Linked DNA regions of Homo sapiens: region 1 is linked to region 2. The links come from fine-mapping of genetic effects on gene expression. A gene starts in region 2. The other region holds a variant in brackets. All regions are shown on one strand. Distances are from middle to middle. Region 1 overlaps LOC124904790. Region 2 holds the start of RPS19 (ribosomal protein S19).

Region 1 (5,370 bases), 730 kb after region 2:
TTGGAAGATTTGGTGGTGCGGGCCCGGGAGCCAGTCCATGAGAGACAGGCAAATGTACATCTGGAGAGACAGGGTCTCAACAAGGGCCCTGGACATGCCCACTAGGCCTTAGTTTCCCTACAGGGACTTTGATATTGGAGGTTCTAGAACTCTTCCAAGAATCTAACTGTCCCATTGTAGGTACGTCTGTGTACTCGGGATTTGGCATAAGGCTGGACGCACAAGGGAGAGATTGTGGCCGGCCCTCTCACCTCGCCCCATTTGGAACTCATGATGCGGAAGTTGTCACTTAGGAGGTTCAGGACCTCAGGAACTCCGGGTCCCCGTAGCCATAGCGGTTCCCGAAGACAAGAACAGGTAACACTGGATACAGCATTACCCAGTAGCCGCACGGGGTCAAACGGGGCTCCTGGGGGTAGGAACAGGACGGTGGTCATAACGCGTGGTCCTGCCCCCAGCCAGCCCCATGGGCTTACTGGCTTTCTTCCACCCAAATACCTTCCAGTGGCCCCGTCTTGGCAGTGCAAGGGACTCTCCCACACCAGGCCCTTCCGCTCTCCCGGCCAGGCCGAAGCAATGGTGGCTTGAAATTCGTCTAGCAGACAAGCCGCCTCATCCAGGACACGCGCCTCGATGGTCCGCGTATCCAACCCGAACTTCTTCGGCGCTCCAAGTGCAAAATTGCGCAGTGTCCACCAGCACGGCCGGTTAGAAAACAAGATTCCTGTGGTGGGGACGGGAAAGGAGGCGGGCCCGGGAACCGGCCACGCCCCATCCAGGAAGCGCCGGGTCACTGGCTACATCCCTTTCGGGGCCTCCGACTCCTGCGGCCGGCTTCGTTCGTTTTGCTGCCTTACCAGACCTCCAAGTGCCCTATCCACACATTGGCCCCGCCTTTGCTGGGCTCCATCCCTGACCTAGGCTGGCTCTGGGACTTTGAATCTTAGGCTCTTTTCTCCTGTTGGCTGCAGGATGAACCTCCATTCTAACCTTACGCTTTAGCGCCGCCCCGCCCTCTCTCGGCCGTTTGCACCTCATTAGCTGGAGTCTCTATTAGGCCCCGCCCCCATTTGCCCGCCTCTACCATTTACCCGCCCAGCCTGGAGCGTCCGGACCGGCAAGTCCAGCGCCGGGGCCTCACTGTTTCCGCGTGTGAAGCGTTCGAAGACTGCCATGGACCCGCGGCCGGAGACCGCATCCGCCTGTAGCACTAACGCGTCCCGCAGCGCTGCGTAGCCGCACAGCACCACCGCAGGGCGCGGGCCCAGCCGCACTGTGAACACCCGGCCCCAGCGGCCGGAGAGCTACGGGTAGCCGGTGCTCAGCGGGTGCCCATAGGGTTCCTCATCGGAGCCATTGCCCCCAGCTCCCTCTTCCTTCAGACCCAGGAGTCCTCGTCTCAGACCCTCATTCCTCAGGTCCAGGAATTCAGATCCCCAGCTCCTTCCTCCCTGAGATGCGGGAGTCCAGGCCCCCACTTCCTTCTTCCCTTGGGACCTAGAAGTCCAGATTCCCAACCTCCTGTACCCTCAGAGTGTCTCCTGGGCCCTCAGTACCTCCCCACCCTGAACCAGGAGAACAGACCCCCTGCTCCCCTCTTCCCACAACCTGATTTCCTGCTCTGGGCTCCTTCCTTACGACCCAGTGTCCCGGCCCCAGGCTCTCCACTCCCTATTCTCCTTTCCTAGTACTCAGCAGTCCGGAGCACTCATCCTTCCTGTCCTTCCTCAAGATCATAGAGTACAAGCCCTCAGCTGTCTTCGTTCAGGAGGAGTTCTAGTCCCCAGCCCCACCTCCACGAATCCAGAATTCCGTTCCCCCATTCCTGTCGGGAATGGAGCGCGCGGTCCAGGCCTCCGGACTGCAGCTGCAAGTTCCCCAGCAATGGGAGCAGCCTGGGCCGGGGAGGTAGGGACCCCCGCATCTGAGCGCGGCACCCACCCTACCCCCACCACGCCGGCACCAGCACCAGAAGCCACAACAGCAGCGCAGCGATACCCGCGATCATCATGCCTGCAATTCTCCACGCCTGCACCTCTATTTGATTTCCAAGGGGTCTTGGGTGGAGCAGGGGCAGAGACCCGATGTGGGAGGAGTGGGCATCTCAGGGCTGCTCATTCCATGGATTCCCCAGCCCGACGTCTCCAGCCCACCCCCAGCCCTGGTGGAACTGTGCCCTGGCTCCTCCTGGCTTTTTTTTTTGTGCCTGCCTCAGCCTGCCCCACTTAACATCTTTCGTACACCAGCATTTTCATGTCAACACACCTGGCCAACAGGTGCACCCTCCTGAGCCCCTAGCACCTTTGAGTCCAATTTATTTGGCCTGTAGGTGTGTATTCCTCAATCTCCGGGCCATCTCTGGGCCCCCTGAACGCTGTACCCTGTACCTCTGATTCCTAAATACACACCGACTCTCAAATACACTTCTTCTTCTTCTTCTTCCTTCTTCTTCTCCTTCTTCTCCTTCTTTTTTTTTTCAGAGTTTCGCTCTTGTCGCCCAGGCTGGAGTGCAGTGGTGCGATCTCGGCTCACTGCAACCTCCGCCTACCAGGTTCAAGATTCTCCTGCCTCAGCCTCCCAAGTGGCTGCGATTACAGGCGTGCACCACCAGGCCCTGCTAATTTTTGTATTTTTAGTAGAGACGGAGTTTCACCATGTTGGCCAGGCAGATTTTGAACTCATGACTTCAGGTGATCCGCCTGCCTCGGCCTCCCAAAGTGCTGGGATTACAGGTGTGAGCCACTGCTCCTGGCTCAAATACACTTCTAAAGACACCCCTGGCACTCCTGTGCTCTGTGCCTGTGATTCCTAGGAGCTCACACCTGAGCCCTTGTCACTTCCATTGCTCTTGGGACCCTGTGTGCTACGCTTGTTCCCCAGATCTGCCTTCAATTTCCCTGGCTTCTGGGTGTCCATCAGCCTGGCACTTCTGTGCCTCTATTTCTTCAGGGTGTCTTTCTGCATGTTGACCCCCTTGTACTTCCATATTATGTCCTGCCCTGAATCTACCATCTCTATTCCCAAGGCATTGGCTCCCAGATGCCCCCAAATGTTCTGTGCCCATGCTGCTGAACCCCCTGGTATCCAGTCCCCCAAGTCCTTGTCTGAGGCCAG[G/A]CCATGATGGCAGACAAACTTATCCCTTATTCTCTCATCTATCCCCCACTACCCCCAATCCTAGGGCATGGGCTAGAGGGGGCAGACTCAGGCCTGGATGGGCCAGGGTTGCGGTGGTGGCAGCAGTGAGTGAGGTTGGGGCTGTATTTGGAACAGACTGTTCAGGAATGTGGTCCACCCTCCTGCCTGCCCCTGCTTGGCCAAATCCAGCCTTCCTCCAAGTGCCTGGCACAGGGCCCAGACCTGGCGAGCCAGTGGGCGGGGGGGGGGGGACTGTGCAGAGCCTAGGACTGGCATTGTCTCTGGGAGGGTCTCTCTGTGTCTCTTTGTTTCATCTCTCAGTCTCACTTGCTCTCTCTCTCTTTTCTTTCTTTTCCTTCCTTCTTTTCTTTTCTTTCTTTTTTTGAGACAGAGTCTGGCTTCTGTCCCCCAGGCTGGAGTGCAGTGGTATGATCATGGCTCACTGCAGCCTCAACCTGGGATCAAACAATCCTCCCACCTCAGCCTCCCGAGTAGCTGGGACCACAGGTACACACCACCACATCCTGCCAATTTTTGTATTTTTTGAAGAGACAGGGTCTCACTGTGTTTCCCAGGCTGGTCTCCAACTCCTGGGCTCAAGCAATCTTTCTGCCTTGGTCTCCCAAAGTGCTGGGAGTATAGGCATGAACCAGCGTGCCCAGCCTCCCTCACGCTCAGTCTCTATGTTTCTGTGTTCATCTCTCTCTCTCTCCTCTTTCCATCTTTTCCCATCTCTCTCTCCTTTCTCTCAGTCTCTGCCTCTGTTTGTGTCTGTTTTCTGTCTCTCTTTTCAGTATGTCTGTGTCTTCCTCTCCCTGTATCTCCCCCAGTCTGTGCTTCCCTTTGTCTCAGCCTGGCACTTCTGTGCCTCTCCTTATTTCTTCAGGGTGCCTTTCTGCATGTTGACCCCCTTGTACCTCCATATTCTGTCCTGCCCTGTCCTGGGTCTTCCTACCTGTCAGCCTTTCTGGAACCTGGTGACTGACATGGGTTGTCTGGCAGGGCCCCTGCTCAGAGCTGCTGACTCCACTGACAGCGGGAGTGTGGTGGGGCACAGTAAGCTGCATCCTCCCCCAGCCCTACCCCACCCTCTGTGACAGGCTTTAATGGATCCTCTTTATTATGGCCTCTGGTTTCTCCCCAGCTCCTGACTCTTCCTCCATTTTGCTCGGGTGGGCTGTCCTCTGGAATGTCAGCTCTTCCAGAGCAAGGATTTTGTCTTGTTTGCTTCTGTATCCCAGCACTTAAAATAGCGCTCAGCACAGCAGTAGGCACTTAGTAAATGTTTGTTGAATGAATGCCCAATTTTTCTTCCTCCCTACCTCTCTTTGTTTTTTTATAGAGATGGGGTCTTGTTAAGTTGGCCAGGTTGGTCTTCAACTCTTGGTCTCAAGCAATCCTCCTGCCTCAGCCTCCTAAAGTGCTAGGATCACAGTCGTGAGCCACCGTGCCCAGCCTCTTTCTTCCCTCCCCTCCCCTCTTTTCCCTTTCTTCTTCTCTCTTCTCTTCCCTTCCCTTCCATCTGTCTTGTTCTGTTGCCCAGGCTGGAGTGCAGTGGCACCATCACAGCTCACTGCAGCCATGACTGCCTGGGCTCAAGTGATCCTCCCACCTGAGCCTCCCAAGTAGCTGGGACTAGAGGTGCGTGCCACCATGCCTAGCTAATTTTTAAAATATTTATAGAGACCAGGTCTCGTTATGTTGCCCAGGCTGGTCTCAAACTCCTGGGCTCAAGTGATCCTCCCGCCTTGGTGTTTCTATCTCTTTGTAATTAGACTGGATTTCTCTGTTTCTCTCTTTCTTTTCCTCCCTTTTTCTTTTTCTCTCAGGTCTCTCTATCTCTCTTCATTTCTGTTCTCTTTATTTATCTTTGTCTTTCCTCTCTCTGGACATCGCTGTCTTTCCCTTTTCTCAGTGGCTGTCTTTCTCCTCCCGGTCTCTGTTTTCCAGGATTTCTCTGCCATCCCTGCGTTATCTGTCTCTTCCTTTTCCTCTCCATCTCTTTTCAGTGTCTCCAGGTGTTTTTCTGCATCATCTCTCTCTGCCTGTCTTTCTCAGGACCTCTGAGTCTCTCTGTGTCTCCCTCTCTCCCCCAACCTCTGTGTCCCTGGCTGGGCCCTGGGGCCGACTCTGGTCAGCCTGTGATGGGAACAGTGAGGGGATTAAAGAGCTGACACCTTAATCCCCATGTGGGGACTGCCTATAAGCCTCACTCCAGTAAGCCCCATGCTCAGC
Region 2 (5,370 bases):
GGTCTTAATGCCATCTCTTGTTAATCCCTCCCCATGTTAAAAAAAAAAAAAAAAATGTACAAGACACATACAGTCCTACTTTGGAGGTATTTGGTATGTGCAGAACGTGTCTTCACCCCAGCAAATGAGAAAGGCTAATCCCAGATCCAAAGCTGCTCTGACCAACTGACCCTTGAGGCACTGCCAAAGCAAGATGGGGGGACAGGTGGAGGAGATATGTAACTTCCAGGGCTTGTCACTGCTGTGCGCCCAGGGAAGTCAGCTTCTCTTCATCCGCCCCATTTTCTGTCTAAAACAAACGGTGGGTAGGTGGTATGCCAGCAACCCGACCCACCTCAGCAAGTTCATCTTTCAGTCCTCAGAGGCCGCGGCTGAGTTATGCTGGTCCTCTGTGCTCACTCCATGGCCTGAAAGAGTGGGCCCCAATAGACATTTGAGGCACAAGTGTACCACAAATCTACAAAATGCTTCATATTCTGAAGGGCCAAGCAACCTGTACCAAGGCCAACTCTTTTCCGGGTCATGGAGGAGTTTTGCCGATTTCCAAACCCTGCTTCCCACCTACTTCTTATCTGGAGACAAGTTGTGGTCAGGATGGAGTCCCCACTTCACAGAGAGAGAAGGTTTAAGATTGGAGAGGCCGAGGCCCCTTAGTGAAGGTCGGTGCTAAGGCTGTCACCTTGACATAACACGGCACTGCCACCGCCCACCCTGTTACATCTTCCTGAAAGTGAAGATTTAGTGAGTACTGAAATATTAAGACACGTGAGAACTAACACTAGTCAGGGACTGTACATAAATTATTATTGGAAGATTGAAAAGAGACGGGGCTGGCACGAGGTTGCAGGGTGTCCATAAGATCAGAAGTCAAGATTTAAAGCAGGGACTGACCTGGCCAGATCTCCAACCATTTAGTTAGAAACAGCCTGTTAGAGATATGGAGAAGGCTAACTTGATGATCTGAGCAATAGTAAAGACAACTGGCTTTTTCCTGAATAACTACTGTGCAACAGACACGTTCTAAACACTCTGCTTTAAATTCATTCAATCCTTGCAATACTCTAGTACTGGTACAATAATTAGTCCCATTTTGGGGATGAGAGAGTGCACAGGCAGGTTAACCAACTTGCCAGAGGACACACAGCCAGATGTAAAAGATGGATCCAAACCCAGGGAGTCTGCCTCCGTGTATATAGAAAGGATTAAACCACCTGTAAGCAAAATATGAACATTCATCTGTCTCTGGTTTCCCCTGAGGCTCAAAGCCACAGGTCCTCCTCTCACAAAGCTCTTAGAATGTCATAAAAACTTGGAGTACCAAGTTATCGAATGTCACATCACACAAAGCAAGTGGTGACACAACCAAGGGTTTCTCTCCCTCTTGGGGCGGGAAAGAGCTCAGAGGAGACAGGGAAGTATGGTTTGTGCCAGGGGTCACCCAGCTCCCCACTCTCCAGCCAAAGACCTAAGTTCCTCACCAGCTCGCGTGTAGAACCAGTTCTCATCGTAGGGAGCAAGCTCTTTGTGCTTGGCCAGCTTGACGGTATCCACCCATTCGGGGACTTTCAGCTTCCCGGACCTAAGACCAAAACAGTGGGAAAAGCACGATTCAGTCATCTCCACAAACTACCCCATATCCCAAATGCCCTCCCCTCAACACAACTATGCTGTGCCCAGAGTACAAAGAGAGGCTGGAACCGGAACACAAGCCAGGCCTCACGCTGAAAGGAGCCACGGAGGCCCCAAACAAGCCTCGCCTGCCAGGGACCGGCAAACACTGGGGCTCAGATGGGCAGGCCAAGGCGACAGCCTCCACCCGTTTTGAACCTCAGTCCCCAAACTCACTTTTTGAGGAAGGCTGCCAGAGCTCTGACGAACTCCTGCTGGTTCACGTCTTTTACAGTAACTCCAGGCATCTGAGGGAGAAAGTCAAGCATGTGAACACAGGCCTGGCAGAGACGACTGCCAAGAGCACGGACCCCACCCCAATCCTTTCGCTCCAGCGCATCCTAAACCGTGGTACCCCCCGTTACTTCCCACGGCCCCTTCAACGCCGGGCTCCGGCTCCTGCGGGTCTGAAGGAGCTCACCGACGCCCACGGCCTCTCTGGATCGCACTAACAGAGCCCGGCCCCTGCGTGTGAGGATCCTGCGCGACCCCACTCCCCAGCCCCGGGACTCCGGACGCCCCACGCACCCCGCCGCTGCCCCCCGGGGCCCACGCTCGGTTCCCGGACGGCGCTGACCGGGCATGTCCGGGCCTGCCGCTCGCACGTGGCCGCGGCTCTAGGGGGCGGGACGGGCCCGCGCCGGGCGCCTCGGGGCCCTCAGGCACGCGCTCTGAGGCTTCGGCGTCCGGCCCTGCCGCCTCGCGCCCGGTCCAGCTCGGAGCCCCCGCTTACCGTGCGGCCTCCGCGCTGCCAGCCAGGGGAAAGGGAACGACGGGGTTTCCCGGGCGCACAAGTCGGGCGTAGGGTCTCGCGAGAGTTCCGAAAGCTCGCGAGAGCGAGGGTAGACGCTGAGGCTCCGCCTCTCTCAGGGCGAAAGTTCGTCCCCGCCTAGAGGGGAGGGTGTCTAGTGAGGGGTGGAGAGGTAAAGGGGAGGGCCAAGGGGTCGCGCGTGGAGGCCTGGGTTTCCTCCCGCGTTTCCTTCTCCCGGAGTGTAATAGAGAGAGGATAGAGAGCTCCTGTTCGGAGCTGGGGGAACTTGGCTTCGTTTGCGTCGTTCGTGGCTGGAAGGAACAGTGGTGGAGAATACTATGATGGCGAAAGTACGGGGCAGGATGGGTGGGCCACAGCTGGCGCCCCACGGCGGAACAACCCCTTTTCCGGGTGGAAGTGGCTGTTCCCTGGCCGGAAGTGGGAGTAGTAAGGGCGGAACTGTGACAGGGAACCTAGGGGAAGGGCGAGGAAGAAATGTGGCTATCATCTTCCGTCCTTCACCGCCAGGAGTCGCGAGAGCGGGAGACGGAAGCCCCACCCTTCTCAGGGCGGAAGTTGCTTCAGCACGGCCGGGGCGAGCGAAAAGGGAATGAGGCGCTGGAGGAGGGGAGAAGATAAGGGCGGGACAAAGCGGCAGAGGCGGGACCTTAGCAGAAGTTAGTTCAGCTCTGCCTTCTAGTGTCGGAGTCTGTTCGCTCAGCCCTTACTTTGCCAATTTAGATTTACCTGCCCCGCTGACCTGTGTAGCTTTAGGCAGTCCATTTGCCTTCTCAGGGCTTGTCTCACCATTAAAAAAAAAAAAAAAAAATGAGATCCCCGTTTGTCCATTTAAAGTGGCTCCTCTGGTTCATGGCGCGTCACATGCTCTAAAAAATATTTTTTGAGTGCCTGCTCTGTGCCAGGCACAGGTAAATATTATTTGGACATTTATCATGTGGCTGTTACTGTAGTGTTACATGCATGATCTCATTTAATCCTTACAAGGCCCAACAACTAAATAACGTGGTCCAATAAAATTATGTTAACTTGTTGCAAAAAGGAAACACTGAAATGTGTGTAGCTATTTTCTTATGTTGGAAAGACTGAGAATTTAAAACATAAGAGCAAATATTAGAATTTTACCCCACACTGATACTGTGGCTGCAAAATGTGTTAATTATTAATAAGCCAAGACTCGTATCTGTTAGAAAAATTAAAACCAACCATGCTTCTAGCATAAGATCATATATTTAAATCAAGGTTTTACATTCATGTAGAATGTTGTTGAAACCTATCTCATACTGTTTCTAAAACTTGAGAAAATATTTTCATTATCTCAATTGTTTTTCCAGAACCAACACATACATATTTCCATATGTATTCAAAGTGGGTAATATATGCATGTCTAACTGGAAATCTCCAGGTACTTGGGTAATTTATATTCACTTTTTATAATTTAAGTAATTATTATTTAATTTTTTTTGAGTTGGAGTCTCGCTTTGTCGCCCAGGCGGGAGTGCAATGATGTGATCTTGGTTCACTGCAACCTCCACCTCCCGGGTTCAAGCGATTCTCCGGCCTCAGGCTCCCAGGTAGCTGGGATTACAGGTGCCTGCCACCACACCTGGCTAATTTTTGTATTTTTATAGAGACGGGTTTTCACCACGTTGGCCAGGCTGGTCTCGAACTCCTGACCTCAGGTGATCCACCTGCGTTGGCCTCCCAAAATGCTGGGATTACAGGTGTGAGCCACCGTGCCTGGCCCCCACTTTTAATAATTTCTAATACCAGTTCTGAATCATTTACACTTAATTCATTTAAGTCATTTCATTGAATTTAATTTTTTTTTTTAAAGCTCTCCAGAGGAACTCTGGAGTGCCTGACCAAAGGAAGAGACAGGGTGAATATAGGATTTTGGGAAGAGTGAAGCTTAGGTAAAATTTATATAAAGCAGAGTTTTGATGGACATAAGGCAAAGCAGGCATGTATTTATGCAACGGAGCTAACATCATGCCTGGGCGAGGAGCAGACCCAGGATTCTGCTTCCTTGGACATTAGAAAGTTTAGATAAATGTACAATGTTGTCTCTAAAAACCGCTTCTCTGAGATCATGACTGCTTCTCTGTGTCAAAGTGACTTAGACTTTCCAGGTAAGAATGAGATGTCCCATTTTCACTATTGTTATGATTTTAAAGATTTTTAAAAATTCTGGCAGTCTGTGATTTTAGAGAACACAGTTTCTCAGCACTGTGTCCCTGGTGTTAATTTTTGTACATGTTAGTTTTTACAGGTTCATAATTGACAACTCTGTGAGGTGGTTATAGACCAGTCAACTGAGCCTTAGAGTCAAGTCATTTGTCCAGGGTCACATAAGGTTAAAGCCTGAGCCCGGATTTGAAGCCACAACTGAAGATACTCAAGCTTTTGCAATAAACTTTTTTTTTTTTTGAGACGGAGTCTCGCTCTGTCGCCCAGGCTGGAGTGCAGTGGTGTGATCTCTGCTCATGCAAGCTCCACCTCCCGGGTTCACACCATTCTCCTACCTCAGCCTGTCGAGTAGCTGGTACTACAGTTTCCCGCCACCACGCCTGGGTAATTTTTTGTATTTTTAGTAGAGACGGGGTTTCATCGTGTTAGCCAGGATGGTCTTGATCTCCTGACCTTGTGATCCACCCGCCTTGGTCTCCCAGAGTGCTGGGATTACAGGCTCATGCCTGTAAATTTAGTGTATAAGTACAGAATTCCCATAGTCCCCATGCTGACACACAGGGATGGCCTCCCTTTCTATCAACATTCCACACCAGAGTGGTACCTTTGCTACAATCAAGGAACACAATATTATCACCCAAAGTCCGCAGTTTACATCAGTGTTCACTCTTGTTGTATGTTCTGCAAGTTTTGGCAAATGTGTAATGACACGTATCCACCATTACAGTTTCATAGAGAATAGC

The links. PIP is the estimated chance that this variant, and not a neighbour inherited with it, causes the effect.
Region 1: its variant is fine-mapped to the expression of RPS19 in fibroblasts (GTEx, PIP 0.91).

Annotation. Positions count from the first base shown.
Region 1 is chr19:41,131,360-41,136,729 of GRCh38, reverse strand. It overlaps LOC124904790, which reads left to right. Exons shown (of 3, transcript XM_047439802.1): 3 at 1-1,096. It also overlaps the pseudogene CYP2T3P. Among named protein-coding and RNA genes, the nearest start is that of CYP2F1, 20 kb to the right of the region's middle. The variant G/A (reference allele first, on the strand shown) is at 3,115.
Region 2 is chr19:41,857,321-41,862,690 of GRCh38, reverse strand. RPS19 (ribosomal protein S19) reads right to left here and starts at 2,436. Exons shown (of 6, transcript NM_001022.4): 1 at 2,402-2,436; 2 at 1,846-1,916; 3 at 1,479-1,579. The coding sequence starts at 1,916. RefSeq lists silencers at 2,115-2,234, 2,295-2,424 and an enhancer at 1,978-2,733.